Homo sapiens: one gene and its partner. The protein of the gene in region 1 interacts with the protein of each later gene in a pairwise test. Each region holds a gene or a part of one and is shown on either strand. Other genes may lie near its edges. The genes, in order: GABPA and PINX1.

The links.
Region 2: the proteins of GABPA (region 1) and PINX1 interact in a two-hybrid assay, tested with the Homo sapiens proteins (one large-scale study listed by BioGRID and IntAct).

The regions. Positions count from the first base shown.
Region 1 is NC_000021.9:25,765,653-25,769,687, forward strand, and holds part of GABPA (GA-binding protein alpha chain), read left to right. Parts: intron 1-3,351; coding exon 3,352-3,580; 3' UTR 3,581-4,035.
Region 2 is NC_000008.11:10,829,876-10,833,375, forward strand, and holds part of PINX1 (PIN2/TERF1-interacting telomerase inhibitor 1), read right to left. Parts: intron 3,110-3,500; coding exon 3,017-3,109; intron 1,869-3,016; coding exon 1,790-1,868; intron 1-1,789. UniProt on the Homo sapiens protein: Microtubule-binding protein essential for faithful chromosome segregation. Mediates TRF1 and TERT accumulation in nucleolus and enhances TRF1 binding to telomeres. Inhibits telomerase activity. May inhibit cell proliferation and act as tumor suppressor.

The DNA of each region.
Region 1 (4,035 bases):
GTAACTAAAATGTTTAGTTTTCAAAATGCTTATCCTTTACCATTCAGTCTCAAACACATTGCCAACTGTCTAAAGATTCTTCGTTTATAATCATAATTAAAGCTGCCATTTTTGAGAGTTGATACAGATTGTATACATACAAGTCCCCTCAAAATTACAGGTAAATTGTTAGAGTTAATAATTAAGATGTCAGTTCCCCCCCAGATTGATCTAAGTTTCAGTGCAGCAACTTAGTTTAATTTGAAAAATCAAACTAAGTTTTTCATAGAACTTGAGAAGATAATTGTAAAATTTACATGGGACTATAAAGTACCATGGTAGTCAGGACACCTGAAGATTAGCAAAGTGGAAAGACTTGTCCCACAGGATATTGAGACTGACTCTAAAGTTACAGTAATAAGACAGTTATGCTATTTTCTCAAGACAAATAGGCCATACAGTAGAATAGGGAGCCAAAATAGAACCAGGAATATGTAAGCATTTGATTTAAAGAAATGGCAGTGGGGAGAAAACATATGAGGAAACGACCTGCTTTTCAATAATCAGTGCTGGGATAATTTACTCTCCATCTCTGGGGAAAAGTAAAAGTTGACCTCTTGCTTATGCCGTACCAAAAATCAATTCCATGTAGCTTGTAGCTCTACATGTAAAAAGTAAAATAGAAAAGGATCTAGAAATACTTTCATAACTTCTGGTGGTAGGGAGACATTTAAACAGAATCAAAAGGACTAATTCTAAAGGGAAAGATCAATAAACTGGACTATATTTAAATTAGGAATTTCTGTTCGTTGAAAGCCTTATTAAGAGAGCCACACATGTCGGACAGAAGTATCTAGAATATCTAACCAATTCTTACAAATCAATTTTTTAATGGGCAAGAGACTTGAATAGACACCTCAGGCTAGAGATTATCCAAATGGCCAATGAATATATGCAAAGGTGTACGGCCTCATTAGTATTCAGAGTAATGCAATTGAAAACCATAATTAAATGGTACAACTCACCCCCTAGAGTGGCTACAATTTAAAAGATTGCCAGAACTAAGCTCTGTTGAGGATATGGAGCAATGGGAATGCTTCTACCCTTTTGATAGGAATGTAAATTGTAACAGTTGCTCCCCTAAGCAACTGTTTCATACACATCAAACAGAGATGTACTTCTATGCCCATACACATGTTCATAGCAGATTATTTATAACATCCAAACCCCAGAAACAACCAGATATCTATCAACAGTAGAGTGAATGAATCATTTATGGTATATTCATACAAGAATACCTTGCATTCTTGAAAACTAAGCTCCTGCTACAAACAATGACCAGTGAACCTCACAAACATAATGTTCAGTGACAGAATCCAGACCCAAAAGACCAAATTCTGTATGATTACATTTATTTAGTAAAGTTCAAAAAACAGGAAAATTAAATTTCAGTATTTAGGGATGCATGTTTGGGTGATAAAAATATAAAGAAAAAGCAGTCAAATTACTATCATGATACAGGCTTGTGTTTACCTTTTAGAGCCAGGATTTGGGGAGTGATTGGGAGGGGACATAAAGGGGATTCTAGATGCTGGCAGTGTTCTGTTTCTTGACCTGAGTGATACTTAACAGGTGAGTGAATGTTCACTTTGTAATAAATCACTGAACTGTTCACTTCTGTGTCCTTTTGTTTGTGTGATATATTTGCAATTAAAAAGTTTAAAAAAATACAAGTTTAAAAAAAAAGAGGGAAGAAAAGAAATCATATCCATGAAATACAGGTATTGTGTATCTTTCATTTTAGGGAGGCAACAAGTGGAATAAATGCTACTATATACAGTTGTGTGATGCATCTACTAGATCAAAAGAAGTATTCAGTAAAATTCAAATTTATGTGTGTATATTCTTTTTTATCACCTCTTACCAAGAAATATGATTATGCCAACTCCATTTTCCTCCTAGAATTATAAAACCTCTTTCCTTTTCCATTTTCCTTTTTTTCCCCACGTATAGTCTTACATATTAATGTAGAAATTTTTTAAAGCAATTGATATGCCTATAGCATTTTTAACTGGATGGCAAGGAATTGTTGGTTTATGAGCTGAAATCCAAATTCTGTACTAATGTAATTGACATAAATGGAAACTACAAGACTGCCCAATGTGTTATATCTCTTACTGGGAAATCAAACATAACTATTTTTCTTTTGCTATTCTGGAATTAGGGAAAGATGACAATTTCCTGTATATAGGTCAGTCCTTTCATTAATAGACTCTTGATTAAGCCAAGTGACTTTTATCCTGCTAAATGTGATAGTTTATATCTGGTACTTTTGCAAATAGTTGTTTCTTTTATAATAGCCCTTTGTCAGTGGGCAGTGCAATTTTAAAATAAGGGCTTTGCAATCTGCCAGTCGTGGAAAGAGCTTGACTTGCCTCTTTTTCCTGTTGTTGGAATTAGCAATACATAGTGTGTGTTTAAATAAAGTCTGTTTTCCAAAGGAAACATAAATCCAGCTCCATTTGCATCTCTATAGAATGCAGCAGTAAACTAGATTTCTAGAATGATTGCCGGAACTCTGCTTGTGTACGTTTAGAAACATTGTCTCTTTGCAATGTCCTTTACCTGTTTTTCTGTATCCTCTGTTTCTTTTAGACCTTTTCCTTAGACTTAAAGCTCCCTATTGGGCTTGGATAATTTATCTGAAATTTGGAAAGCGTTTACATAGTGAAATAATAAAGATGAAGACATGACTTCATCATATAGGATTCTTTACAAGACAGAAAAGAAGTGGAATATATGTATTAATTTTTTTTATATTATCGATTTTTATTAACATAGCTTATATTTTGTAGAGGGCTGTGTGCCAGTCATTGTATACTAAGCACTTTACAAAGATTATCCCTTTAATCCTCAACAATGATATGAGGGTATAAGCACTGTTAACCTCACTTTATAGATGAGGAATAAAAGCTTTGAGAAAATATGACTCCTGTGGTCTCAAAAATGTTAGGTTTTGAATCTTGGCTTTCTGACTCCAAAGCTCTTGTTCTTAGGCTCTTCTACTGCTCTCAAGGTTTTTTGTTTTGTTTAATAATTATTTTTAAATCAATGTTTTATTCTAATTGTTGAAAATATGTTTTGAAAGTTTAATGTATAGAGTTTTGGAGTAGTGAGCATTGAAATTTTAGTAAATAATGTTGGGATGTTTCATTTGATAGTAGCATTAAATATTCTACATAGCTTCAATATTAATTGCTATTGTGGCGGATGCAGTACTCTACTAGGCTTCTGCTTATGGAATAGTCTGTAAATTATTGTAAGAAGTCTCATTTTTTCTGAAGTCTCTAATTTTTTTTTCTCTTTTTGAAGATATTATTACGATGGGGACATGATTTGTAAAGTTCAAGGCAAGAGATTTGTGTACAAGTTTGTCTGTGACTTGAAGACTCTTATTGGATACAGTGCAGCGGAGTTGAACCGTTTGGTCACAGAATGTGAACAGAAGAAACTTGCAAAGATGCAGCTCCATGGAATTGCCCAGCCAGTCACAGCAGTAGCTCTGGCTACTGCTTCTCTGCAAACGGAAAAGGATAATTGAGCCCCAGGACATTCTGAGACTCCAAAGTCTTTCTTAAAATGTTTAGAGCAAGTATAGCTCTTACCTTTATTACTGAATTTGAATCTTCTTTTATTTCTAGGCTGTACAGTCTGATGCATGATTTTTTTATAAATATTTCATACTCTTGTGAATTTGGATCTTTTTACTTTGAGCATATATTTTAGAATATGTGTATGTTAAAGGATCTCCACAATGTCTGCAGTGTGAAGGCAGGTTCATTGTGGAATAGTTTAACAGTCAGGAAGGCTAAACTGGTCAGTATTAATGTGTAGCCCTACCAAAAATAGCCAGTAGTATCTGAAAATGAAAAATAAATGAAGTATCTCTAGGAAACAGTCTGGCTTAACTATTTTTGAAAATATAACTGTTTCCCCTCTCTGCTGCTTTAGATGTTGCTTTACATAGAACCAGAAAATGGAATTTCTCAGCTAAAG
Region 2 (3,500 bases), on another chromosome or scaffold:
GTTTCTCCATGTTGGTCAGGCTGGTCTCAAACTCCCGACCTCAGGTGATCCGCCCGCCTCAGCCTCCCAAAGTGCTGGTATTACACCGTGCCCAGCCAAGCTTACATTCTTATCTGTGTTTCTACTGAGTTCAACTGTGATCGTAAATATCAAGATGTTTTCTGTGTATAATTAGTAAGGAATAGTGTCCTTGAACTTTACTACTTCATAGATCCTGCATTTCCTAATATGAGTCATTCAGTATTTTCAGAAAACATTTTCCTTATCTTTTTCTTCTGCTAATAAATTATTGCCCTTCATATTAGGACCACACACAGAACTGTTAGGTTATTTCAAAATCATGATCCTATGGATAAGGAAAACTGTCCAAGTTATACATTCCAACAAAAAGTCCAATCTGGTTAGAAAAAATACCAACAAAGCACCTTTCCCTTCACACTGTTGGGCTCACTTCCACACACGTCACTGCAATAAACCTTCCTATGGTTAGATGTGTGCTGTGATTTTACCAGGTAATTACCAGCATATTCTGCTAGCTACCTCCAAGCAGGACTGTGTCTTATACCTCTGCAGATCCTCACACCTAAACTAGTACCCAGCACACAGCTCAATAAATGTTTGCTGAACTCAAGTCTAATTCATTATTTCACTCCACAAAATTCTTTCAATCTACCAAATATCTTTTGATTATTCACACATGACACACAAGGAATAGACTGTTCATAAACAAGAATGTTTATAAAAATGCTTGCAGATTACAACAAAATCCAATTAAAAAATGGGCAAAGTACTTAGACACTTCTTCAAAGAAGATATAAAAATGGCCAATAAGCGATGAAAAGATGCTTAACATCAGTCATTAGGGAAATGGAAATCCAAATCACAATGAGACATCATCTCACACCCATTAGGATGGCTATTATCAAAATTATAAAAGATAATTACTGGTTAGGATATGGAGAAATTGGAACTCTTATGCACTGTTGATGTAGCCACTACAGAAAACAGTACGGCAGCTCCTCAAAAAGTTAAAAATAGAACTACTATATGATCCAGCAATCCACTCCCAGGCATTACCCAAAGGAAAGGAAATCAGCATGTTGCAGAGGTACCTGCAAACCCACGTTCACTGCAGCACTATTCACAACAGCCAAGATATGGAATCAACCTAAGTGTCCACCAACACATGAACTGGGAAACATGTGGTGCATACACACCACGGAATACTATTTACCCTTACGAAAGAATGAGAGTTTTTCATTTGAGGCAACATGGTTGAGTTTGGAGGACATTAAGTGAAATAAGCCAGGCACAGATAAATATCACATATTCTCGTTCATATGGAAAAGCTAAAAGAGTTGAGCTCATAAAAGTAGACAGCAGAATAGTGGTTATTAGAGCTGCGTAAGGAAAACAGCTATGTAGGAACAGCTAAAGATTGGCTAATGGATATAAAAGTCCCACTACATAAGAGGAAAAAGCTCTAGTGTTCTATAGCACTGTAGGGTGACTATAATAAATAATATTTTATTTTATATTTTCAAATAGCTAGAAGAACAGATTTTAAATGCTCCCAACACAAATAATAAATGTCTGAAGTGATATATATGCTAATTACGTTGATGAACATAACACATGTGTACATTACAAATTGTGCACAGGTATTGACATATCACACTATACTCAATAAATATGTATAATTATGTGTCAACTAAAAATAATAAAAGCAAAAAACAAAAAGTAGATAAACATATTTGCATTGAGAACTTATGTCATCTGATTTCCCTACCTGTGGTTTCCTGCCCATGGCAAGTGTTCAGTTCGGCCAGAAGCTGGTTAAAATCATCCTGATGGGCAATCCAGTTGTCCTGAAAATATCAAAGAAATGAACGAGAGGTAAGCCTGTAGTTTACTTACACTGACTGAGATGATACATTTTGGAATCAAGGAAATCCAGTGGTTAATTAAGAAATTTTAAATGTTCCATCAAAATACTATTTGATAAATTTAAGTGGATTCAAGAAATAATATAAAGTTAAAATGCTCTTTATCCAGGTCAATATTAAAAAGGGGCTTCCTGGAAGCTTAAGGCCTGATTTCAAATGTGAATGACTTATCGATCAAGTCAATATATAGTAAATAATCAACAGGCAACCTGTGTGCTAAATGTTAAAGTAAAACATAATGAAATGACTATTTTTTTCTCACTAGGGGAAATTCCATAGTTGAAAGGACAAGAACCATGCGGGACAAAAAAATGCTCTTCTTTGCTTGGTAGAATTAAAATCTTCTAATGACTTGCATCAACTCCAATTTTACAAAACTCTGAGGAAGGGGAGGAGGAAGAACCTTAAGTCCCCTGAATCGATGAGTTCCCATTTGTAAGGTGGTTACCTAATAAGTTTATTATAAAAAAATGAACCTGGCTTTTATAAGAGAATGAAGATCTCCCAAACCAGTGGGAAGCAGGGTTTCAGTGTACGAATCTGCCTTACTCACATTCTTAGCAATTTTTAAGAATGCTTAAGGTAAAGGAATATGAAATAGGTTTACTGGGCAATGCTTCTTCTAAGAAAATAAGTATATCTGTGTTATCTATCCCTCAACAACTACATTTGAAATCAACTTTATATAAACTCTTTCTTTAGTGGCTAAAAATTTTAGCTCCGCCAATCCACTACTCAGAGATACGGAACTAACCAAAGTAATTCAATTTACCTAAAGTAATTTCCCAGATTCCCTACCAGATTATGTTGGCTGCAAAAACTTAGAAACAAAACTTTTCAGTTTAGATCCTTTCCAAAAGGGAACAATGATACTAAAAATAAAAAGCGCGGTAGGCCACTGACTCTGAGTTATAGTGCCATGCATTCAAAGCGTCAGTGTTCAAGAGGAAACGTGAATAAAAAGAAGTGCTGCACCAATGGTCAGAAGCAGATGAACCAATCAACTTTCAGATTTACAAGACTGAAGCCAATTATGCAAAGACACCCAGGAGGCACACACTGCTGCTCACTTCATTATTGATGGTAGCTCCGAGTCCCAGGTGGTTATTTTTCACTTGAACTTTAATATGATCTGTGGCTCCTTGCTCCTGAGCCCCTAAACCCTGTGGAGATTAAACACAGAGAGTTAGAACATTCCTCTCACTGATACTCAGAAGCAGAGCACTGCTACAAAACTCACAGATGCCTACGGCAGGTGTTCTGAGTTGATGATTCTCTCCATTAAATACTTTCACAAAGCAACATGGGGGAGGACTCTAAGTCCTCTGCATCAATTAGCACTCATCTGTAAGATTTTCCAGGTAAGGAAAGATCAAGTGCAAAGACCCGAAGGTGGGAAAAAACTCAGTGTACTGGGAAACCTCAGAGGCACCCAGGGTGGCTTCTGCAAATTAAGGAATGAAGGAAGTAGGATGACGGAGGGGCTAGATCTCACATAACCTACGGGAGGAATTTGGATTTTATTTTAAAGACAATGGAAAACCACTGGTCTTT